2 separate regions of the Homo sapiens genome follow, and region 2 is linked to region 1. The links come from fine-mapping of genetic effects on gene expression. A gene starts in region 1. The other region holds a variant in brackets. All regions are shown on one strand. Distances are between the middles of the regions. Region 1 holds the start of LRRC8A (leucine rich repeat containing 8 VRAC subunit A). Region 2 overlaps LRRC8A (leucine rich repeat containing 8 VRAC subunit A).

Region 1 (16,557 bases):
TTGAACTCCTGGGCTCAAGTGATCCTCTGGTCTTGGCCTCCTAAAGTCCTGGGATTACAGCTTGGATTATAGGCATGAGACACCACACCCAGTCATCCTTTGTTCTTTTTTTTTTTTTTTTTTCTGTTTTTGAGACAGAGTCTGGCTCTGTCGCCCAGGCTGGAGTGCAGTGGCGTGATCTCAGCTAACTGGAAGCTCCACCTCCCGGGTTCACGCCACTCTCCTGCCTCAGCCTCCCGAGTAGCTGGGACTACAGGCGCCCGCCACCACGCCCTGCTAATTTTTTTTGTATTTTTAGTAGAGACAGGGTTTCACCATGTTAGCCAGGATGGTCTCAATCTCCTGACCTCGTGATCCGCCTGCCTCGGCCTCCCAAAGTGCTGAGATTACAGGCATGAGCCACGGCACCCGGCCTTTTTTTTTTTTTTTTCTTGAGATAGAGCCTCTCTCTTCACTCTGTCACCCAGGCTGGAGTGCAGTGGCACAATCTTGGCTCACTGCAACCCCCACCTGCCGGGTTCAAGTGATTCTCCTGCCTCAGCCTCCCAAGTAGCCGGGATTACAGGTGCACGCCACCACGCCCAGCTAATTTATTTTTATTTTTATTTTTTTGAGATGGAGTCTCACTCTTTCACCCAGGCTGGAGTGTAATGGCACGATCTCGGCTCACTGCAACCTCTGCCTCCCGGGTTCAAGTGATTCTCCCACCTCAGCCTCCCGAGTAGCTGGGATTACAGGCACCCACCATCATGCTCGGCTAATTTTTGTATTTTTGTAGAGATGGGGTTTCACCATGTTGGCCAGGCTGGTCTTGAACTTCTGGCCTCTGGTGATCTGCCTGCCTTGACCTCCCAAATTGCTGGAATTACAGGTGTGAACCACTGTGCCCAGCCACCCTTTGCTTTTGAATAAATGTTGCCCATCTTCACTCAAGCTGTTTCCCCTGCCTGGCATACCCTCCAATCCAAAATCCCTAGCAGGGCCTAGCCCCACCTGTACCTCCTCTCTGAAGCTTCTGTGTCCACCCAGGCCCTTTGCTGAACTCAGAAAGCACCTACCTGTGCCTGACCCTCTCCCCCAACCCCATGCTAAATTCTCTAATCCTCATCACAGCTGATTAGGATGGTATTATTTACTCTATTTTGCTCAAAAGGAGAACAAGGAAAACTCACTCAGCCTAGAGAGCTCCAGCTGTGATTCAAACCCTGGTTTGCCTATTTCCAAAGTCCAAATTCTGTCCCGTGAAATCTCCTCTCAGGCGGGTGCTAGGGCTGACAGGAGACCACCAGCCCCTTGGGGACAGGAGCCATGTCTTGTCCAACTTCACCTTGCATGGCTGCTTACAAGGGCAGGCGAGGTGACCATGCCTTCCCAGGGTGGCCCCACGTCACATCACTCAAGTCAATTATGACATTCGGTTTTGGAGCTTCTCAATAGGGGCACACTTAGAATTTGAGATGAGTCAGTTCTTCACTGGGGAGAGCTATCTGGAGCCTTGAAGGATGTTTAGCATCCCTGGGCTTAAAATGCCAGGAGACTCCCAGTTACTGAGACAACACACATCGTGGCACCTCTAGAGAAAGGGTACAGAACTGGGGATACCATGCCCAGGAAGACCAGTCTAGTGCATGAATAACCACAGAAGACCAAACCTTGGACTTGGATCAAATAGTCCCAGCTCCACCATAAACTAGCTATGGGACCTTGGTCATGCCAGGCCGCAGCCTCTTGGGGGCTCAGCTTCCTCATCTGTACAATGAAGGTGACAAGAATCCACAGAGAATATACTGTGGGTCCTGGCTCACAGCCACTTGTCAATGACAACAAGCTATTAACTTTTTTTTTTTTTTGAGACAGTCTTGCTCTATCGCCCAGGCTGGAGTGCAGTGGCACAATCTCGGCTCACTGCAACCTCTGCCTCCCAGTTTCAAGCGATTCTTGTACCTCAGCCTCCAGAGTAGCTGGGACCACAGGCACGTGCCACCACACCCAGCTAATTTTTGTATTTTTGATAGAGATGGGGTTTTACCACGTTGCCCAGGTTGGTCTCGAACTCCTGAGCTCAAGCGATAGTCCCACCTCAGCCTTCCAAATTACTGGGATTATAGGCATGAACCACCACACCCAGTCAACAAGCTATTAACATTTAAACCTACCAGGCTTTCCATAAAATTAGTAACCAAGCAAAATGAAAAATCTCTTATTATATAATGAATCCAAATTTTTTTTGATAGAAAAAAAACAGAATTCCCTGAAGACAAATGTTTGGTGACAATTTGTTGAGCCAATGTTTTCCTGGAGAGAACAGCCTGTCTGAGGAGATCTAACAATTGCGTCACTCAGACACAGTCCCCCTGGGCTTAGGAATTGGCAGAGGAGAGAGAAATGACTTCTGGAGTCCAGACGGCAGGTTTACAGGCTGGAGGGGTTGGTGGAAGACCTGAGTGACACAAACAGTAGGTATCTCACCACTTATTCCTCCTGGCACAGGACCCAGATTCAAAAACCACAATCTCACTCCCATACATTAAAGGAACACACAACAGATAGGCAGATAGCCTCGCGGGAGCCTTGGAGGAGGTGGCATCAGCTTTACAGGTGGGGAAACTGAGGCTTAGAGAGGGGAAATGACTTACTCGAAGTCCCAGAAAAGCACCAGGAGGCCCCCAGCTGCAAGCTGGGGAATGAGGGCATAGGATGAGCATTTTAAAAATTATGCCGGGAGGCCGGGCGCGGTGGCTCACGCCTGTAATCCCAGCACTTTGGGAGGCCGAGGTGGGCGGATCACAAGGTCAGGAGATAGAGACCATCCTGGCTAACACGGTGAAACCCCGTCTCTACTAAAAATACAAAAAATTAGCCAGGCGTGGTGGCGGGTGCCTGTAGTCCCAGCTACTTGGGAGGCTGAGGCAGGAGAATGGAGTGAACCCGGGAGGTGGAGCTTGCAGTGAGCCGAGATTGCACCACTGCACTCCAGCCTGGGCGACAGAGTGAGACTCCGTCTCAAAAAAAAAAAAAGGAATTATGCAGGGAACTGGCAGTGCCATCCAGGAGTGGGATGTGGCCCCAGGTCTGTTCTGGCAGGAGTTACAGTGACTGCCTCATGGCTGTGAAGGCTCCTGCATTCCTTTATCGCCCCCACCTGGATTATAAAATCAGGCGCCCTACTCTTTGGAGCTTGGAGAGGTTAGTGTGGCGTTCTGGTGGTTGGCACCTAATGGAGGCATTCTCCGGGAGGAAAGATTCCTGCTGAAGCCAGACTGAATGGGTCTAACTTGTATATTCTCCAATCCTGTTGGTCACCCTCAGTTTCTTAGTGGACACCAAGGCCAAGTCCAGGGTAGGAGCCCATCTCTCCTTGAGTCTCCAGCCTCATCATTTCTCCTTCTGGACATCCTAGTTTCCAGTCACATTGAAAGTCCCTTCCTTGGAGAAGCCCCTTCTGACTCCACCCAGGCTAAGCCACATGTCCCCTCCCAGGTGGTCCCAAGACCTGGGCTTCCGCCCTCAAAGTACTCAGCACGGGGGCGCTCAACTCCAAGGACAGGAACTATGTGCTTGACCTGTTCTCCACCAGATCCTCAGCCTCTGGCAGCTCACCCAGCACAGAGTAGGTCCCCCAGGCATTAGCACAGATGATCCTGGGAAGCTAAGGGAGAGGCCTGGGAGCCCAGCAGCCTTCCTAGGGAGGGAGGGAGACCTGTAGGAACCCCCTTCTGGCAACTTTCTTAATCTCTCTGTGCCTCACTTATCTGTAAAATGAGACTTATCTGCGTGTAAAATACAAAGTATAATACGTGGGAACATTCACTGTCTACAACTGTGGTTCTGGTTGTTCATTTTACAGGCGGGGACATGGAGGCCCACGGAGTACCTGGCAGGCCCACAGTCCACAGGTTGGAAAGAGGTGCCCAAGCCCTGGACTTTAAGCCTGGGCTCTGACCTTCAACGTTTGCTTTTCACACCACACATCATGTCAATAAATAGTTACTGGATGCCTGTTGTGTGCCAGGCCCCAAGACGGGTGTTGCGTGACTGACAACAGAAAAAGCATCTCAGTGGCGAGGGATAAGCTAGATCATGGGCATTAGTGTAAATCTCCCAGGGTTCAAATTCCAGCTTCTCCACTTCCTGGCTATGATTTTTTTTTTTTTTTAGACGGAGTCTTGCTCTGTTGCCCAGGCTGAAGTGCAGTGGCCCAATCTCAGCTCACTGCAAGCTCTGCCTCCCAGGTTCATGCCATTCTCCTGCCTCAGCCTCCCGAGTAGCTGGGACCACAGGCGCTCGCCACCACACCCGGCTAATTTTTTTGTATTTTTAGTAGAGACGGGGTTTCACCGTGTTAGCCAGGATGGTCTCGATCTACTGACCTCGTGATCCGCCCGCCTCAGCCTCCCAAAGTGCTGGGATTACAGGTGTGAACCACCGCGCCCGGCCCTGGCTATGATATTGCTAAGTTTCCTAACCTCTCTAAGGTTCTTTTCTCTTCTATTAAAAGGGAAAAATAAGACCTCCCAACAGAAGTGAAACTAGGCATTGGCTTAACACGTGATGGATGGGAGCCACGACTATCTTCATCATCTTATTTTTAATTATCTATCTGTGCACATGGTAGTAAATTTCTCGCCCTGGCCCAGGTACCCAAGACCCCAATTCTGTCGGAGACAACCGCAATTAACAACTTCTTGTGCATCTTATCAGACAGCTGGCGCGCACACCCGCAGATACGCCCACCCTCAGGCGTCCTTCTACGCAAAGATGGATAGCACCCATCAACGCTGTTTTTTCTTTTTTTAGACGGAGTCTCGCTCTGTCGCCCAGGCTGGAGTGCAGCGGCGCGATCTCGGCTCACTGCAAGCTCCACCTCCCGAGTTCATGCCATTCTCCTGCCTCAGCCTCCAGAGTAGCTGGGACTACAGGCGCCCACCACCACGCCCGGCTGATTTTTTTGTATTTTTAGTAGAGATGAGGTTTCACCAAGTTAGCCAGGATGGTCTCGATCTCCTGACCTCGTGATCCGCCCGCCTCGGCCTCCCAAAGTGCTGGGATTACAGACGTGAGCCACCGCAACCGGCCCAACGCTGTTTTTACTGTTGTTTCCTTTTTTAACCTAAGGTATCTTAGAAGTCACCCTACATTAGTGCATATTAAACATTGTTCGTCTTAATGGCTGCACAGTATTCCACTGTATGGATTATTTTTTAATTTGGTTGCCGGTACTGTTATCAGCCAGGGAATTTGCGAGGACCCAGCGGGATTTATGGAGCTGCAGAGTTGGAGTCTGGGGACCCAATTCCAACCCCAGATCTGTCCAGAATTCTGTTGTCTCGGGTATCATCTCCACCGGCGCGGTCGTGGGAGGGGGATTTGGGTGCAGACAGGACCAGCCCCAGTGTCCGAGCGAGAATCAGCGAGCAGCACGCGCAGTTGATTCCCGCGGGCGGCTCAATCATTCTGTGCAGCCACTCCGTTATACTTAGTAGCATCAAACTCATTAAGCACTCTAGCACAACCAAGCTCGGAACCGTTAGCCGACCCTCCCAGCCTCGGCACCTGACCTTGGGGAAGTGGCGCTCCGACACAGCTACTCACCCTCACCTGGGCCGCTTCACCCCTCGTTCCCAAGTACACCCCGTAGGTTGCAGCAGTCCCTGTCCCTTTAAGGGGGCCGAGCCCGGCTCCGCTACTTCCGCCCCGAAGCAGCAGGGCGCTAGCGCGGAGGCGAGAGCGGGAGAAAGCGCCGCTAGAATTCTCCTCATAAAGATGGCGACGCCCTGGCCGCCGCGTTCGCGCCCGGCGGTGACGTCACTTCCGGGGCGGAGGAGGCTGAGTGGTGCAGTGAGGGACAAACAAAAGGAGGCGCCGGAGCAGCGCTGCGGCCGGCGGCGGGACGGAGCGGCCGGGGCCTGGGGCTGCCTGCCGGGCGGCCGGGCGCGGCGAGCCCAGGTGAGTGGACGGGGTGGGGAAAGGGGCGCGAGCTGTCACCTCTCGAAACCCACTTACACACGCCCTCGGCCAGCTGCCCGGCCCGGGGCGCCCGGGGCATCTGGGGCTCTGTCTCCGGGCCGGCCCCCTGGGGACCTCCCGCGGTGTTCGGCCTACCTCTGGGCTCCCCAGTGCCCGGAGTCTCCGGGGCACCACCTTCTCGCCGGCTCCGCGGCGCGCGAGCCCCCTCCCAGGCACCCCTGTGCCTCCTTGTGCTTCAGAAACCAGGAGTTTCCGCCTCGGCTCCCCCATGTCCCCTTGTCATCCCCTGGGTCCCCCCAGATCCTCACCCCTCCACACACACTCTCCCGTTCCTAGAGGTTCCACCTCTGGGCTCTCTCCTTGCCATTTCTTTTTCAAAGATTTCCTTAGCTGTCTTCTCCTGAGTTCCTGGTCCCCTTCTCTTCCCTTGCACCCCTCCTTCCTATCGTTCCGATGGGGGCAGTGCCCTGACTTGGGGGCAGGATCCCCGGCTAGGCTCTTGGGGCCTTTCTGGGATGGGATATTTGGGAAGACCGGTCCGGAATCTAAGAACCCAGACCCTGTCCCAGTCCTGTGCATTCAGGTGGGCCCGAGGGCGAGGCGAGATCCAGTGAGGTCCAGGCCTGGTGCAGCCCTAGGTGAGCTGGATACCCAGCAAACTGAGCTCCCAGGCTGAAGGGGCATAGCTGGGGTCATGGAGTTCATGATGATTCTGCTGCTTTCGCTGACTGCTTCTTCCCCTTGATCTGGACCGGGGTGAACCGAGGTCTGCCGGTTCTCAGCTGTTGCGATTGTTGCCTTTTTTGGGAAGGAGGGATGGGTCGGGGGTTGTCTGGTAGCCGCCTCCTGATGGAGACTTGGCTGGAAGGGTGGGCGGTTCCTGGGTGAGCCACACTTCCACTGACTCCTCTTCCCCTGCCCTACCTCAGGAAGCCTTTTGAGAATGAGGTGTGGAGGGAGAGCACCTGGTAAGAGGAAGGGAACTGGGGGAGCCCGAAGTTCCCAAGGACCTCTTCCACCTCTTCTGTTAGTAGTACTCTTAACCCCTGCCAAACTGTATTCTGCCCTTTGGAGCAGACAACCTGGCAGACAGACAGGCTGTAAGAAGCGGGAGGAGATCGGCTGTTGCTGATACTTCCTGTGGAGGGGATGTGGGAGTGGGAGTTTGTTCAGAGAGACTGGGCAGTGCTGATTGCTCAGTCTCACTGGTGTTGCTTCCATGAAGGTCAAGTCTTCCTCTGGCTCATGAAGTGAGGCAAGGACAGATGACCTGTGCTGGAGGAGGCTGTTGTGGACATGCCAGGGATGAGTGACTGGGTGGCTGGTCTCTGCTTCCTTGTTTTCCTGGTCTCAGGGCTTTGGCATGGGGTCTGATGCCCTCTGCGTTCTAGGGACCATAGGGTACAGAGCAGGGGGTGCAGGGCCGGGCGTGGTGGCTCACGCCTGTAATCCCAGCACGTTGGGAGGCTGAAGCGGGCAGATCACGAGGTCAGGAGTTCGAGACCAGCCTGGCCAACATAGTGAAACCTTGTCTCTACTAAAAATACAAAAAATTAGCCAGGCATGGGGCTGCGCACCCGTAATCCCAGCTATTCGGGAGGCTGAGGCAGGAGAATTGCTTGAACCCAGCAGGCAGAGGTTGCAGTGAGCCAAGATCGCGCCATTGCACTCCAGCTTGGGCAAGAAGAGCAAAATTCCATCTCAAAAAAACAAAAAAAAAAACAGAGCGGGGGCACAGGAAATGTTCATGACTTCCCCCCAGAACTTGACTAGATGTGGTGGTTCTCCATCCCTTAGGCACACCCACCAGGAAGCCGTTTCCTTTGCAAACTCTTGAATGACCTTTCTGGACTGTAGGGAATCCTGGGGATCACTGCCGTGGGTCAGAACTCAGGGAAGTGGCCGGACCCTGGGTTGCTGCCTGGCTTGGCCTGGACCTTGCCTGTAGGAGTTGGAGGGAAATCAGCCTGGTTCCTGACTGCCTCGTCTTAGAGTAGAGCTGATTCCAGGTTTTCACATGGAGAAACTGAGGCACACACTGATGGGCCAAGACCTCTTGGAGATTCAGGTGGGATGGATGTGGGGCTCTTAGAGCCCAGCACAGTGTCTCTCCATGCCTTGACTCATTCATTCATTCATTCATTCATTCAGCCATTCTTTAGAAAGTGCCTGTCTTGGGCCTGGGATGGCTGGGAAAACATCCCTGGCCTCCTGAGAGCTGCAGTCTGGGAGGACAGGCAAACCAGAAGACACATAAGTTCTGATATACTGTGGCCACCATATTAATAGAAATATTACAGAGGCAGCCCAGAGGAAGAAGGAATTAGCTCTGGGTGGTTATGTAGGGGGTGGTCAGGGTATGCTTTCTGGAAGAGGAGGGACTAGAATAATTAGTGACAGGGAGTCCAGGGGCCCAAGTTCTGGACCTGGCTCTGCCATGGGCAGGTGATTGGACCACCCAGCCTCAGTGGGTGCCCCATCCTTGACAAGGAGGGTAGAGTGAGGTAGAGGTTGGCTTGGATGGCCTCCGTGCCTATATAGCTGTAGGTACTTTACTGCCTAGTCACCACCACCCCGTATGGAATTGCAGGGTTATTGACCTACCTCCCATGACGGCGGAGACCATCTTCCATGTCTGCCCTCCCAGCACAGGGCCTGGAACTTAGTCAATATAGTAAATACCCAGTGGTAGAAATGATGGAAAAACAGCCATCCCTCCTAGATCAGTCCAGGTGTCTTTGTCTACCCCCGCCCTCCTCCTTCCTGGGTAACTCCTGCTGATCCTTTGGCTCTCTCTGGTGGCTGGGCCACTCTCCCAGCTCCTGGCTCCCCGAAACCCGTGTCGTAGTGATCACAGCTTTCCCTACCCTGCCACTCCCATGCACAGTTCTGCACAGTGTCTGGCGCATATGGAGTAGATGCTCACCAGAGGCTGGTTGACTGTCGGAGATGATGGGTGGATTTGGTGTTTAAGTTGGAGTCTGGGCACTGGCTGGTCTCTGCCTGACCCAGCCACCCCACTGTGGCTCATCTCTTGCCACTTCCCCTCTCTGGCTCTGGATCTCGCCATGCCGAGCCCGCAAGCCTTCTCCAGATGCCATGTACTCTCTCCTCCAGGTAAACATGTGCTGTTCCTCCTGCCTGGAATGCTCTTTTTCCAGCTCCTACTCTTAGGAGTCAACTCAGACAACTCCTCCTCCAGAAAGCCTTCCCTGACCCCACTAGTCTGGGTCTAGTGCTTCTCCTGGCTCCCCCGCAGCAGAGCTCTGAGCTCTCAGACCGTCGCTACTGACTTGGCACCTCCTCAGTAGACCAGGTTCTGGAGGGAGGTGCTCTGTCAGAACCTCTTTTGTCTGCCAGGCGCGGTGGCTCATGCCTGTAATCCCAATACTTTGGGAGGCCGAGGCGGGCAGATCCCTGGAGGTTAGGAGTTTGAGAGCAGCCTGGCTAACATGGGGAAACGCTGTCTCTACTAAAAATACAAAAAATTAGCCAGGCTTGGTGGTGCGCACCTGAAATCCCATCTACTCGAGAGGCTGAGGCAGGAGAATCACTTGAATGCGGGAGGCGGAGGTTGCAGTGAACCGAGATTGCACCACTATACAAAAAAAACCTCTTTTGTCACCCCAGAGCCCAGCCAAGGGCCTGCTACCAAGCAGGCTCTCAGGAAGTGCTGGCGGTGTGGCAGGTAACTGCGACAGTCACACATGTGCCTGCTGACGGCAGCTCTCGCTTCCTTGTAGGGAGGCAGCGTCCATGGAGCAAAAGGAATGCCAGGATCCTGCACAGGCAGACGCGGGCCAGCCTCAGCACCGACAGCCGACGCGCAGATAGCAGAGCCATCCTTGGGGTAAGGACTGGGCCCCTCTCCTTCTCAGCCAGCTCCAGCTCCAGTCAAGTGCCCTTCCCAGCCTGGGGAGCAAAGGGTAGCATCTCCATCCCCACAGTCCTTTGCTTTTCTTGCTGTAGGTCCAGGGTAGAGTGGCAGACAGCAGAATTACTCTCTTCCTCCTTCTCCCGCTGAGTAATGTGTGCTTGCCGCACTCATTGAATGCTGAGTTGTTTCATTGCAAACCTCTGTTTTTTCTCCTTCACCCCAGATCTTATCAGTCTGGGTCTTGCTAATGCAGCCTCATGACCACATTTCCCAAAAAGCGTGGACCACGTTTCCCAAGTGTGTTCCATGAGACACCAGTTTCTTCGGTCACAGTGGTTTGATAATTCCAGGAAACAAAGACTTCTTGTTATCCTTGCTGCAGGACTTATCAGAGTCTTGAATCAGAGCCGTCATCAGGATTGAGCTGATCACGATAAGGGAGCTAGCGACTCGTGTTTCCCCACACTTATTTGATCGTGTAGACATCTTTGGGGACTGGGATTCCTTGGCCTGTGCTTTGGAAAACAGTTCCCAGAGGCAGGAGAGTCCCTTTAGAACATTTGGAGGATTAAATATGTTGACATAGAGCAGGCAGTTGGCAGAGTGCATGTCCTAGAAGGTGGTCCCGAGTCATAGCTGGTGTGTGTATAGACGGCTGTGTAATTTGCCAGACATACTCAGGTCGGTGATCTCATTTGACCATTTGAGGATGCTTAGGCAGTGGCCATTATCTCCAGTTTACAGATGTGGAAACTGAGAATCAGAGTGAGGAAGCAGCTTGCCCAGACTCATCTGTAAAGAAGGCAAGGACATGCGGCTTGAATCCAGACCCTGGAATCCTGGGCCAGGGTCTTCTGTTGTCTGCCCTGAGGCCTTCCTGCCTTTATCTCTCACCTCAGTTTTTTGTGTGAAGGAAGGCCTGAGTCTCCCAGCCTGGATTTTAAAAGAAATAGTAATTTTTTTTTTTTGTAATTACCAACATAGTTGTATATTCATTATATGGTTTTATACTGTTTGGCTATTTTTGGGGGACAGGGTCTCACTCTGTTGCCCAGGCTGGAGTGCAGTGGCACCATCATGACTCACTGCAGCCTCGATCTCCAAGGCTCCAGCGATCCTCCTGCCTCAGCCTCCCAACTAGCTGGGACTGCAGGTGTGCACTACTGTGCCCAGCTAATTTTATTTATTTATTTATTATGGAGATAGAGCCTCTCTACATTGCCCAGGCTGGTCTCGAACTCCTGGGTTCAAGAGATGCTCCTGCCTTGGCCTCCTAAAGTGCTGGGATTATGGGTGTGAGCCACCATGCCAGACCTGTTTGGATCTTTAATGTCATCTAGGAAATGAGTCTCTGCTGATTCTCATCTTCAGAGGTGTGAATGGGAAGGGGTATATTCTTCCACATCTATTGTTACCATTTGCTTATTTTTATAAAAATCTGGTCATGTTTGAGTTGCTGATTCACAGTTTGCTTTTGTTTCATATAATGATATCCCCCGGACCTCTTTTTTTTTTGAGATGGAGTCTTTGTCACCCAGGCTGGAGTGCAGTGGCACAATCTCAGCTCACTGCAAGCTCTGCCTCCCGGGTTCACTCCATTCTCCTGCCTCAGCCTCCCGAGTAGCTGGGACTACAGGCGCCCGCCACCACGCCCGGCTAATTTTTTTTGTATTTTTAGTAGAGACGGGGTTTCACCATGTTAGCCAGGATGGTCTTGATCTCCTGACCTTGTGATCCGCCGCCTTGGCCTCCCAAAGTGCTGGGATTATAGGCATGAGCCACCGCGCCCGGCTCCCCTGGACCTCTTTCCCATGCAAGAGGTAGATAGAGCTGTGTGTGGTCCTGGCAGAATGCACACCCTTGAGCCCCCCTGGCCCCTCCCCCTCACATGCTGGGAGTTTTGAGCTGTTTGGGCATTTACAGCAGCAGAGGGAGGTCGGAAGTGCCTGGTGTGTGATTGTGTCGACTCTCCTGTTTATGGGATAAGGTCAGCCAACTCCTGGCTCTGCCCCATAGGAGTTTCCTGTTGGTTTTGAGGAACTCTGTCCCCTGGAGAGAGGGGAGGCCTGAGCTGTAGTCTTTCATGCTGGGCAGCGCTGAGCAGGAAGCAGCAGGTCCTGCTTGTCAGATCATAATTCCTCCTTTTTGCCAAGGATGGCGTGGAATGAACCGCATGGGCCGGCCTGAGGGGTTTTGGCCTCCACCCACCACCTGGGTTCAGGGGACACACATGAATCAAGCTGAGACAAATTGAGTCTGAGCCATTGTTCTCCTGAGCCCAGCCCTTCCTGGGGATAGGAAGGAACAGGCAGACCCTGACTCAGTTTACCCTTGCTGTATCTGGAGGAAGTGTTGGTTGTGGTCCTTTTGGCATGCTCCTTTCAAGTTTTAGTTCTGAGAGTGGGCAGGTGAGGAGCAGGAGGAGGGCCCACCCTGCCACCTGGGTCCAAAGATGCTCTCTTTTGGGGTATAGCTGACCTCAGGAAGGGTTTGGGCAAGGAGAGCATACAGGCGTGGCAGCCTCGTTTTGCGGGGCTGCGAGAGCGTCTGGCAGGATCGCGCTGGGAGTGAGGTCTGTGCCAGAGCTCCTGACATCTCACCTGTGTTTTTCAGGCTCACTGTCCTGTCGCTTTCCCTCCCCCACGTCACTTCCTCCATTCTTCCCCAGGAGTCTCTTTTCTCTCCCATACACTGCTTGGGAGAGAGCTGCAGAGCTGGCCCCTCCACAGATGGTGCTCAGCGTCTCTGGCTTCTCCTTCCTGCAGTAGCACCTTCATAGTCCGTGGTCATTCTCAGCACCATGTCTCAGTGCTGAGCCACAGGCTGGGATGCTGCACGCATTTGCCCATCTTACCTTCGCCACAGCCTTGCGTGTGAGGTTGCTTTACCATTTTACAGACCAAGCCCCAGAGGGATGAGGTCTCTGGCCCAAAGTTATACAGTGTACATGTGGCAAAGCTAGGACTTGAACCCAGGTTGGTATGGCTTGGCAGCTGGGGCTCTTTCTACTTCACCCTCCATTACCCTCTTTTCTCAGGTTCCCAGGCTTTTGGGGGCCTTCAAAGTCACCTGGAAGCTTGTCTAAAATGCTGTTCCCCTGGGCCCACCACCACAGACCTGCAGAGTCTGCCCTGGAAGGTTGGCCCCAGGAATCTGAACTTTGAAGATGCTTCCCCAGCAGTTGTGAGGCTGGTGGGCTACAAACAATGCTGAGAAACACTGACCGGACGCCATTCTTTCAGCCTTAGTCCCAGTCGTCTACCGCAGAACTCATGCCCTTGGTGTGGAAGCAGGGCTGAGCTCCCCACAGGACTGGGACTGGACAGGTTTTTTTTTTTTTGTTTAATTAATTAATTAATTATTTTGAGATGGAGTGTTGCTCTGTCACCCAGGCTGGAGTGCAGTGGCACAATCTTGCTCACTGCAACCTCCACCTCCCAGGTTCAAGCTATTCTCCTGCCTCAGCCTCCCGAGTAGCTGGGACTACAGGTGCCCGCCACCATGCCCAGCTAATTTTTGTATTTTTAGTAGAGACGGGGTGTCACCATATTGGCCATGGCTGGTCTCGATCTCCTGACCTTGTGATCCACCCACCTTGTTCTCCAAAGTTCCAGGACTACAGCCGTGAGCCACTGCGCCTGGCCAATTTTTTTAATTTAATTTTACTTTTTTGAGATGGAATCCTGCTCTGTTGCCCAGACTGGAGTGCAATGGTGCCATCTTGGCTCATTGCAGCCTCTGCCTCCTGGGTTCAAGTGATTCTCCTGTCTCAGCCTCCCAAGTAGCTGGGATTACAGATGTGCACCACCACGCCTGGCTAATTTTTGTATTTTTAGTAGAGACGGGGTTTCACCTTGTTGGTCAGGCTGGTCTCGAACTCCTGACCTCAGGTGATCCACCCACCTCGGCCTCCCAAAGTGCTGGGATTACAGGTGTGAGCCACCGCACCTGGCCAGACAGTTGTTTTTTAGTGGCTTCATTTTGTGTGTGTGTGTGTGTGTGTGTGTGTGTGTGTGTGTGTGCTGGGAAGGCGAGGGGCTTAACCTTCCCTCCTCAAGGACGTGTGGGGCTGAGGTTTCTAGAAGGGCTTTTACTCCCAGCCACAAATGTTCCCTGCTGTCTTCCAGATGCGTTTCTGTTGCGTCTTGCGTCTTGCAGCAAGTTTGTCTACATCTAAACGTCTCTTGAGGGCTTAAAACCTCAAAATTAAATTGCTTGCTGCAATCTAAGCCTCACGCCTAGAGCAATGTTCCAGTGGAGTAAAAGTGGCTGTAAAATTCCATAGCTTTCACGTGCCACCTGGACGCCGTCAGAGTGCCACTGCCAAACCTGCGCCCTCTGACGGGCAGCATGACAAACGCACTGACCAGCAGCGGGGGCGGTGGGCGGGAATCCTGGCCCTGAAGGGACACCTCGCATCTCCCAGCTGACTCCATGAGTCAGGATCCCTGGGGGTAGCCCCCTTCCATCCCAGAGAGTCGGGTACCAGGCAGCTCACCCTCTGTCAGACCCCCCAGTCCTCCCCCTGGCTCACCTAGGGCTTGGCCAGTGCCCACTCCCCTGGGATCTCAGCAGAAGATGTGTCTGCTGCCTCTCTAGGGTACTGGTGGCCACATTTCATAACCTGTCTAAGAAGGCAGCGCTGGTATTCATAACAGGTTAAGACCTGTAAACCGTGTGTGGCCGTGACTCCATGTGCAAATATGAGCCAACAAACGTTGGCTGGACGTGGCGGTTCCCACCAGTAATCCCAGCACTTTGGGAGGCTGAGGTGGAGGATTGCTTGAGCCCAGGAGTTCCAGACCAGCCTGGGCAACATAGTGACCTGTCTCTACAAAAATAAAAAAAAAATTAGTCCAGGCACAGTGGCTCAGCACTTTGGGAGGCTGAGGCAGGTGGATCACCTGAGGTCAGGAGTTCAAGACCAGCCTGGCCAACATGGTGAAACCCCGTTTCTACTAAAAAATACAAAAATCAGCCGGGTATGGTGACATGCACCTGTAATCCCAGCTACTTGGGAGGCTGAGGCAGGAGAATCACTTGAACCCGGGAGGCGAAGGTTGCAGTGAGCCGAGATTGTGCCACTGCACTTTAGCCTGGTGACAGAGTGAGATCCCGTCTAAAAAAAAAAATTAGCCAGGTGTGGTGGCATGTGCATGTAGTTCCAGCTACTTAGAGGTTGAGACTGGAGGACTGCTTGAACCCAGGAGTTCCAGACCAGCCTGGGCAACATAACAACCTATCTCTACAAAAAATTTTTAAAAATAGCCAGGTGTGGTGGCACATGCCTGTAGTTTCAGCTACTCGGAGGCTGAGGCTGGAGGATCGCTTGAGCCAAGGAGTTCAAAGTTGCAGTGAGTCATGATCGCACCATTGTGCTCCAGCCTCGGCGACAGCGCAAGATCCTGTCTCAAAAAAAATAAAACGGCCTGCCTTCTAGGCCCTTCTGCCCCCAGGGCCCAGACCCAACACTGCCTTCTGGCCCTAAACCCAGGGCTAGGCTCCCTTCCAGAGCTTCCTTATAGCAGTACCCGTGAGACCAGAGGCATCTGAGTATGGCCTGATGGGGTTCCCTGTAGAGCCCTGGTTTCCATGTACCCCCTAAGGAAAAGAGTATCTTGTCTCAAGAAGTATCTTCAAGGGCCTGGGTCCCAGGTGGGTCCGGGAGGCCTGCTTGTCTTTGAGGCAGGTTGGCACAATGGAAAGTCGGGCTTGGGGTGCATCTTCCCAGCTCTTCCTAGCTGTGTGGCCTTGGGCAGGTTACCAAACTTCTCTGGGCCTCCGACATCACACCCATAAAAGGACTGATTTAAACTCTACCATAATAATAACAGCAGTGAACGTTCCAGAGCCTTACTGTATGGCAGGCACTAGTCCAAAAGCTTTATATGGACTGTCTCCTTCTGTCCTCATCACAGCCCTCCAAGCAATAGACTTGTCAACCCATTTTACAGATGAGGAAACCAGAGCCCAGCGAGGTGAAGGGACTTTCTCACGGTCTCGTGGTGAGGTGGGTGCCACCTTGCTGCTATGCATGAAGGTTGGGAGATGGGGCAAGGACATACTGGGCACTTAGTTGACGGTCAGTAACTGGGCGCTCCTGCCCCAGCCTGGCAGGGCGAGGGCAGGTCCTGAGGCTGCACCTCCAGCCCCACCTGCTGCCTCTCTCTGCTTGGCTCCGGAGCTGCTGGGGGAAGCCCAGGTGGGTGTCCCTCACCTGTTGCCTTTCACCCTAGAAGGCGGGCCACGCCCTTGCAAGTTGGTGTGAGGATGAACCTGTTTGGGAGCCCAGCCCAGGTGAGAGCAGTTTGGAACTGACCCGTGCTCCCCTCCCCCTCCAGCCCTGGCGTCTCCCCTCTTCCTCTCCCCAGGAAGTGAGGGTGTACCCTTCTACACAGGGCGAGTCCCAAGCCAGGCAACACCCCCAGCCAGCAGCCTCTGACTCACCCCAGCTGGGTGTGGGGGCCTCCAGGGCAGTGTCCGCCCTGGGGAGGGTGGAGGCTGTGTGTGCCAGACGAGGCTGAGACCTCTCCTCCCACTCTGGCTCTGGGACAGGGGAAGCACATGACCCATGGCCCGTGGTGGGAGCAGATCCACAGGCTTGGAACCCTCCCGGGACAGGGCCTGTTGAGAGCGGCCCCTTCGCGCTCCCTGGGAGAGCACTGGAGGGCCAGCCTTCCCATCTCTGGTACAGGAGGGGTGCCAACCTCCCG
Region 2 (8,436 bases), 24 kb after region 1:
GAGGTTGCAGTGAGTCAGGATCATGCCACTGCACCCCAGCCTGGGTGACAGAGTGAGACTGTCTCAAAAAGGGAAAAAAAAAAAGTTTGTTACTATTCTGGTTATTAACATTATCAGTAATCAAAGAAAGGTGGCCCATCATCTGGGCACCCCTGTTCCTCTCCTAAGAGAGACAGACACATTTGACACAGGCATTTAAAACTTGGTTTAGATAAAAATCTAGGTTCTGGGTTACAGTGTAAAGTAAAAATTGAATGTAAAGTAAAAGCACAATTTGGCCAGGCATGGTGACTCACACCTATAATCCCAGCACTGTGGGAGGCCGTGGCAGGTGGATCACCTCAGGTCAGGAGTTCGAGACCAGCCTGGCCAACGTGGCGAAATTCCGTTTCTACTAAAAATACAAAAATTAGCTGGGCGTGGTAGCGTGTGCCTGTAATCCAGCTGCTTGGGAGGCAGAGGCAGGAGAATCATGTGAACCCAGGAGGCGGAGGCTGTGGTGAGCTGAGATTGTGCCACTGCACTCCAGCCTGGGTGACAGAGCAATACTCTGTCTCTAAATAAATAAATAAATAAAAGCACAATTTATTCTAATACACAGAAAGGGCTGGGTGCAGTGCCTCACTCCTGTAATGCCAACACTTTGGGAGGCTAAGGCCAGAGGATTGCTTGAGGCCAGGAGTTTGAAACCAACTTGGCCAACATAGTGAGATCCTGTCTCTACAAAAAATTTTAAAAATTAGCCGGGCATGGGCCAGGTATGGTGGTTCACACCTGTAATCCCAGTACTTTGGGAGGCCAAGGCGGGCGGATCACAAGGTCAGGAGAACGAGACCATCCTGGCTAACACGGTGAAACCCCGTCTCTACTAAAAATACAAAAAAAAATTAGCCGGGTGTGGTGGGCGGGTGCCTGTAGTCCCAGCTACTTGGAAGGCTGAGGCAGGAGAATGGCGTGAATCTGGGAGGCGGAGCTTGCAGTGAGCCAAGATCGCACCACTGCACTCCAGCCTAGGCAACAGAGCGAGACTCCGTCTCAAAAAAAAAAAAAAAAAAAAAAAAAATTAGCCAGGCATGGTGGCACACACCTGTAGCCCCAGCTACCTGGGGGAGGCTAAGGTAGGAGGATTGCTTGACCAGGAGGTTGAGGCTGCAGTGAGCCATGATCACGCCACCGCACTCTAGTTTGGGCAACAGAGCAAGATCCAATCTCTTACAAGAAAAATTATAAAATTATAAAATACACAGAAAGGACTGGAAGGTTATTATTCAGTGAAAAGTTAACAGTGTGTAACCCTGGTGGGGATTGTAAAGCGGATTCTTCTTTTTTTGCTGCTACGCTTTTTTACAATTTTCCGTATGTTCTCCAGGGAACATCTAGTACCTTATCCCTCCGTGACAGCCATACGTCTTTCATTGTAAGAGCAACCAGCCTTGGCCGTGTGACCACGAATGGCCACAGAGAGGCATTCTCACAGAGATCTTGCTGCGTGCCTCCTGTGTAGCACAGTCTGGGTTTCCTAATGTGGCTTCTCAGCCAGTGTTTCCCAAGCTTGGCCAATCATTAGAGTCACCAAAGTTATGTGTTAAAAATCAGGTTCCCAGCCAGGCACGGTGGCTCACTCCTGTAATCCCAGCACTTTGGGAGGCTGAGACGGGCAGATCAGGAGGTAAAGGGATCGAGACCATCCTGGTCAACATCGTGAAACCTTGTCTCTACTAAAAAACACAAAAATTACCTGGGCATGGTGGTGCAGGCCTGTAGTCCCAGCTACTCGGGAGGCTGAGGCAGGAGAATCACTTGAACCCTGGAGGCAGAGGTTGCAGTGAGCCGAAATGATGCCACTGCACTCCAGCCTGGCGACAGAGCAAGACTCCGTCTCAAAAAAAAAAGAAAAATCAGATTTCCAGCTTCTCGCCATAGTAGTCAAACTAGACTCTCTCTGGGAGAGCCTGCTGTTGCTGCTGTTTTTAATTCCTTTATACACACGCAACCAGAGATGATTTTACATTAAGGCCTCTCTGTGATCACCCAGTTTGTGAGGGAGGAGAGCCTTATTCTTAATCCCCTCTCTTGAGGCCGCTCCCCTAGGAGCCTGTCATTAAGACCCACTATGTGACCTTTGGTCTTCCGAGTGTTCCCAGAATCTTGTACACACATAACTATACACACATGTGGAATTTTGTTGTTGAAGCAGGGTCTCTGTCACCCAGGCTGGAGTACAGCGACGGGGTCATAGCTCACTGCAGCTTCAACCTCCTGGACTCAAGCGATCCTCCCACTTCATCCTCCCAAAATGCTGGGATTACAGGCTAGGATTACAGGCGTGAGCCACCATGCCAGCCCCCATGTGGAATTTTTTTTTTTTTTTTTTTTTTTGAGTTGGAGTTTCACTCTTGTCGCCCAGGCTGGAGTGCAATGGCACAATCTCAGCTCACTGCAACCTCCACCTCCCGGGTTCAAGTGATTCTCCTGTCTCAGCCTCCCGAATAGCTGGGATTACAGGCACCCGCCACTACGCCAGGCTAATTTTTGTATTTTTAGTAGAGACCGAGTTTCACCATGTTGGCCAGGCTGGTCTTGAACTTCTGACTTCAGGTGATCCACCCACCTCGGCCTCCCAAAGTGCTGGGATTACAGACGTGAACCACGTGGAATTTTTAAACCTTGCTCTTTGTTTTATGGAAGTGAGTTCATGTTGTGCCCCCTCTGCATGTTGCTTTCTTTCCTCATATTTTGCGGGAATCCCTCCAGCCCTTTGCTGCAGCTTTACAGCAGCTGGTTCCCAGTGAACTGGGAGTTTTAAATGTGTCCCTCTGGTCAATCTGTTCATTAAATAGGTGGACTTTAGAAAGGAGTTCCCGATTGCTCTTACTGGAATGCAAGGGATGGAGCAGAGAACCCTGAGGCTGCACTGGGGATCTGTCTAATCTCACTGTGCTCAGTCTTCCTGTGTATTAAATGGGGAGCCTGCCTGCCTCCCCCAGGGTGGTTTCCCAGCCAAGTGGCCACATGCTTTCTGCAGAAGGGCTGATAAGTGGGCTGCCCCGTGGAGTAGGCAGGCTTTGGCTCCCAGCTAGATTTGAGGTGGAATTTTGGACAATGGAAGAATTTTCATTGTCTTCTTCCCCTGACCCCTGGTCCTAGGAAAGCCAGGCCACCCTGTGCTAACCCCCCTCCTATGGCTCCCTTTTAGGTTGAACCATGATTCCGGTGACAGAGCTCCGCTACTTTGCGGACACGCAGCCAGCATACCGGATCCTGAAGCCGTGGTGGGATGTGTTCACAGACTACATCTCTATCGTCATGCTGATGATTGCCGTCTTCGGGGGGACGCTGCAGGTCACCCAAGACAAGATGATCTGCCTGCCTTGTAAGTGGGTCACCAAGGACTCCTGCAATGATTCGTTCCGGGGCTGGGCAGCCCCTGGCCCGGAGCCCACCTACCCCAACTCCACCATTCTGCCGACCCCTGACACGGGCCCCACAGGCATCAAGTATGACCTGGACCGGCACCAGTACAACTACGTGGACGC[T/C]GTGTGCTATGAGAACCGACTGCACTGGTTTGCCAAGTACTTCCCCTACCTGGTGCTTCTGCACACGCTCATCTTCCTGGCCTGCAGCAACTTCTGGTTCAAATTCCCGCGCACCAGCTCGAAGCTGGAGCACTTTGTGTCTATCCTGCTGAAGTGCTTCGACTCGCCCTGGACCACGAGGGCCCTGTCGGAGACAGTGGTGGAGGAGAGCGACCCCAAGCCGGCCTTCAGCAAGATGAATGGGTCCATGGACAAAAAGTCATCGACCGTCAGTGAGGACGTGGAGGCCACCGTGCCCATGCTGCAGCGGACCAAGTCACGGATCGAGCAGGGTATCGTGGACCGCTCAGAGACGGGCGTGCTGGACAAGAAGGAGGGGGAGCAAGCCAAGGCGCTGTTTGAGAAGGTGAAGAAGTTCCGGACCCATGTGGAGGAGGGGGACATTGTGTACCGCCTCTACATGCGGCAGACCATCATCAAGGTGATCAAGTTCATCCTCATCATCTGCTACACCGTCTACTACGTGCACAACATCAAGTTCGACGTGGACTGCACCGTGGACATTGAGAGCCTGACGGGCTACCGCACCTACCGCTGTGCCCACCCCCTGGCCACACTCTTCAAGATCCTGGCGTCCTTCTACATCAGCCTAGTCATCTTCTACGGCCTCATCTGCATGTATACACTGTGGTGGATGCTACGGCGCTCCCTCAAGAAGTACTCGTTTGAGTCGATCCGTGAGGAGAGCAGCTACAGCGACATCCCCGACGTCAAGAACGACTTCGCCTTCATGCTGCACCTCATTGACCAATACGACCCGCTCTACTCCAAGCGCTTCGCCGTCTTCCTGTCGGAGGTGAGTGAGAACAAGCTGCGGCAGCTGAACCTCAACAACGAGTGGACGCTGGACAAGCTCCGGCAGCGGCTCACCAAGAACGCGCAGGACAAGCTGGAGCTGCACCTGTTCATGCTCAGTGGCATCCCTGACACTGTGTTTGACCTGGTGGAGCTGGAGGTCCTCAAGCTGGAGCTGATCCCCGACGTGACCATCCCGCCCAGCATTGCCCAGCTCACGGGCCTCAAGGAGCTGTGGCTCTACCACACAGCGGCCAAGATTGAAGCGCCCGCGCTGGCCTTCCTGCGTGAGAACCTGCGGGCGCTGCACATCAAGTTCACCGACATCAAGGAGATCCCGCTGTGGATCTATAGCCTGAAGACACTGGAGGAGCTGCACCTGACGGGCAACCTGAGCGCGGAGAACAACCGCTACATCGTCATCGACGGGCTGCGGGAGCTCAAACGCCTCAAGGTGCTGCGGCTCAAGAGCAACCTAAGCAAGCTGCCACAGGTGGTCACAGATGTGGGCGTGCACCTGCAGAAGCTGTCCATCAACAATGAGGGCACCAAGCTCATCGTCCTCAACAGCCTCAAGAAGATGGCGAACCTGACTGAGCTGGAGCTGATCCGCTGTGACCTGGAGCGCATCCCCCACTCCATCTTCAGCCTCCACAACCTGCAGGAGATTGACCTCAAGGACAACAACCTCAAGACCATCGAGGAGATCATCAGCTTCCAGCACCTGCACCGCCTCACCTGCCTTAAGCTGTGGTACAACCACATCGCCTACATCCCCATCCAGATCGGCAACCTCACCAACCTGGAGCGCCTCTACCTGAACCGCAACAAGATCGAGAAGATCCCCACCCAGCTCTTCTACTGCCGCAAGCTGCGCTACCTGGACCTCAGCCACAACAACCTGACCTTCCTCCCTGCCGACATCGGCCTCCTGCAGAACCTCCAGAACCTAGCCATCACGGCCAACCGGGTGAGTGGCCCGGCCACAGCTCTGCGTGTGGGCTGGCGGGTGGCCTGGCCAGGGCTTGTGGTGGGGCACTCGGCAGGCTCAGTGTCCTGGGACCGTCGATGCCCCTGAGTGTGGAGTCCTCACCTGGGGTTTACAGAACCATCCAGGATAGAAGCTCTGTTCAAGAGACAGACTCCTTGGGCCCCATCCCAGGCCTGCTGAATCCGAATCTCTGGGCCCCGGGCCTGTCTTTGCTCCAAAATGTTGCAGTTCTCCTGCCTGGAGAGACTGCATGGCCAGGCAAGGTCTGTCCCCCAAGGTGACCTTGAGCCGGGTTCCTCTTCAGCAGGGATGTGCTTGGGCAGGAGGTCCAAACCCGGGGGTTCTCTCGCAAAGCCGGGTGGTGGGAGTCAAGACTTAGCCTGGAGTTTGTGTCTTCCTCAGCTTGTTCCCAGTCGGACTTGGAGGCAAGGAGCCAATCCGGGTCCACCCAGGACAGAAACTGTGTGGGTGGCCAGTGCTGGCTGAGGGGAAGCCTTGGATGGTCTCTGCAGCTCCCACACACCTTTCTCCACTGCATTTGGTGGTGTCAGAGGCAGAGTTGGGCCTAGATGGGGCTAGTTTGTTTCTGCCTGCCCTTCTGAAAAGGAAATTGTGCAAATCATTGTCACTGGGAGTTTGGGAGGCCACACCTTCGACATACTTTCAAGACTGTTGGTGGTCTGTGGGTGCCAGTCTCTTACCTGGCTGGGGAAGCCCCCATCCAAGGGCCCCTTGGTGGAGGCAGGCAGTGTGGATGGAGGGCTGGGTACTCCTGTGGCTCTGTGGTCTGGCCTCCGAAATGGAAACAAAGCCACTGCCATTGTGGGGAACGTCCCTCTTCCACCCGTCCTGGGGACCTGCAGGTTTTCCTGGGCCTCACATCCAGGTGGAGATTCCTGTAGTGAGACATGTGGTGGAGGAAGCCTGAGGCCAGGCGCTGGGAGACAAGGGAGAGCCCAGCCAGCCACCCTTCTGCCCCCGACACAGCAGCAGCTGTCGTGCCGGGCCCCTGTGAACTTCACTAGGGATGCCACCAGGTTCAGGAGGCTGAAGAAGAGACTCGGAGTTGACCAGGCCCAGTGGGTCAAACCTGTAATCCGAGCACTTAGGGAAGCCAAGGTGGGGCGGTCACTTGAGCTCAGGAGTTCGAGACCAGCCTGGGCAACATAGGGAAACCCCATCTCTACCAAAAATACAGAAATGATCCAGGCATGGTGGCATGTGCCTGTAGTCCCAGCTATTTGGGAGGCTGAGGCAGGATCGCTTCAGCCTAGGAGTTCAAGACTGCAGTGAGCTATGGTTGTACCACTGTACTTCAGCCTGGGCAATAGAGTGAGACCCAGTCTCAAAGTAAAATGAAGAGCCCTGGAGCCGGCCATTGAAACATGGGGTTTATTTGGGGGAACTTACTTACAGGGTGGTCCAGCAGCAGTGAGCCAAATAGGAAAACCACTCCTGCTTATAAAAAGCGTGCAGCTCATAGAGCATTTTCACTAAGCACCCTCCCCTCTGCAGCCTCCGTGTGGCAACCCGCGTTTCTTAGTTCGGTTGTTGCTGTTGGGTGCATCTGCCATGCAGCAGCCCCACGGTGCAGTCCCTGTTGGTTTCGTGGGCACCTGCTCTGTGTTCGCCCTGTGCCAGGCATGATGCACCTGTCCTCCTTCCACCAACCTGCTGAGTCCTCCCAACAGGGTCTGTCTATAGCATCCTCAGGCACGGAGGGAGGTGGCCCCTGGAATGCCCGGTCTGTCTATAGTATCCTCAGGCACGGAGGGAGGTGGCCCCTGGAATGCCCTGTCTGTCCTCCTGGGCCCCAGGACAGGACACACCTTCTCCAGCATCACTCAGACTAGATGCTTCAGGCCCTCCAGATGCCTGCTGGCTTGGAAGCCTTCCTCCCCTCTTCCCCAGGGCTCCCTTACTGCAGAGCAACCTGCAACCCACATGTATCAGGGATTTTGACAAGTCCTTATCTCCGGCCACCCCATATTATGACTTGAGCACAGTGGGAGAGTGGACCAGGGCAGGGTTTTCTCTTGTAGTTTCGGGACAGGCCCACTGAATAGGAAAACTGGAGTCCCCTGGGGAGAAGCCACATTTGGGAAGCACAGAACAAACCCAGCCCTTCTTTAATCTGTGGAGGGGGAGACCCTGTGGCTTCCCCATAGCACAGTGCTGCCCTTGATAAGCTGGGACTTCCTCACAGCTCCTGCCATTCCTGCCCTGTCCCGGGTGCTGTGCTGGGGCTGTCCTCCTGGTTGGGGGAGGGTTCAAGCCTCCAGCCTGGCTCCCCATCCTGTCCCCCACCCCCAGCTCCTCCCGCCAAGCTTGCCTGTTAGTGTCATGCCTGCTGGCTGAGGTCACCCCTCAGGAAAGGAGCTGGCGGCAAGCACGCTGTCCCAGAGGAAGGAGACCCTCTGGACACCCTGTTTAGCACATGGCTTAATCACATCCTGTCCCCACCCCCTGGAACACCAGAGCCTTAATAGGGAAAACAGTTCACTTGGGCCAACCCCAGGCAGGCCCCTCATTCTGAGTGGGAGGCCTGAGCCCCTCTTCCTCCTCACTCGGGCTTGATGGCTCCTTCTCAGCCACCTTGGCCAGTGGTGACCAGGAGGGGTGGGCGTGGCCTGCCCACGCCCTTGCGTGCTGTTTCTCCAGATTTATACTCTTGCTAATGAAAGCCTTGACAAGACAGTATTCATTCGTTCACTCGTTTACTGATGTGTGCAAATTGTTATGTTTTGTTTGTTTGTTTTTTTGGTAGAGACAGGGTCTCACTGTGTTTTCTAGGCTGGTCTTTAAACTCCTGGCCTCAAAGCCTCCCACCTTGGCCGCCCAAAGTGCTGGTATTACAGGCATGAGCCACTTCGCCTGGCCTTTGTGCAGATGTTTTTTGAGCACTTCTAGAATCCAGCTATGGAGCAAGGCGCCGGGGACATGGGGATGAAGAAGGCCAAGTAACGAGGCAGTTAGCACAGTGCGTAGGCGCTCTGCTGGAGCACCAGGTCCCTGGGAACACAGAGGAACAGGCCCCTGAAGAACGAGGAGGAG

The links.
Region 2: its variant is fine-mapped to the expression of LRRC8A in whole blood (TOPMed, PIP 0.96).

What each region holds. Positions count from the first base shown.
Region 1 is chr9:128,876,305-128,892,861 of GRCh38, forward strand. It overlaps LRRC8A (leucine rich repeat containing 8 VRAC subunit A), which reads left to right and starts at 5,829. Exons shown (of 4, transcript NM_019594.4): 1 at 5,829-5,946; 2 at 9,711-9,817. KYAT1-SPOUT1 (KYAT1-SPOUT1 readthrough) reads right to left here and starts at 5,646. Exons shown (of 25, transcript NR_182311.1): 1 at 5,593-5,646. KYAT1 (kynurenine aminotransferase 1) reads right to left here and starts at 5,646. Exons shown (of 13, transcript NM_004059.5): 1 at 5,593-5,646. RefSeq lists enhancers at 5,716-5,865, 9,142-9,904, 15,940-16,547 and a silencer at 5,896-6,175.
Region 2 is chr9:128,903,961-128,912,396 of GRCh38, forward strand. It overlaps LRRC8A (leucine rich repeat containing 8 VRAC subunit A), which reads left to right. Exons shown (of 4, transcript NM_019594.4): 3 at 3,197-5,361. The coding sequence starts at 3,205. LOC101929291 (a long non-coding RNA gene) reads right to left here. Exons shown (of 4, transcript XR_007061808.1): 3 at 6,084-6,278; 4 at 5,355-5,980. Among named protein-coding and RNA genes, the nearest start is that of PHYHD1, 13 kb to the right of the region's middle. RefSeq lists an enhancer at 5,782-6,565. The variant T/C (reference allele first, on the strand shown) is at 3,537.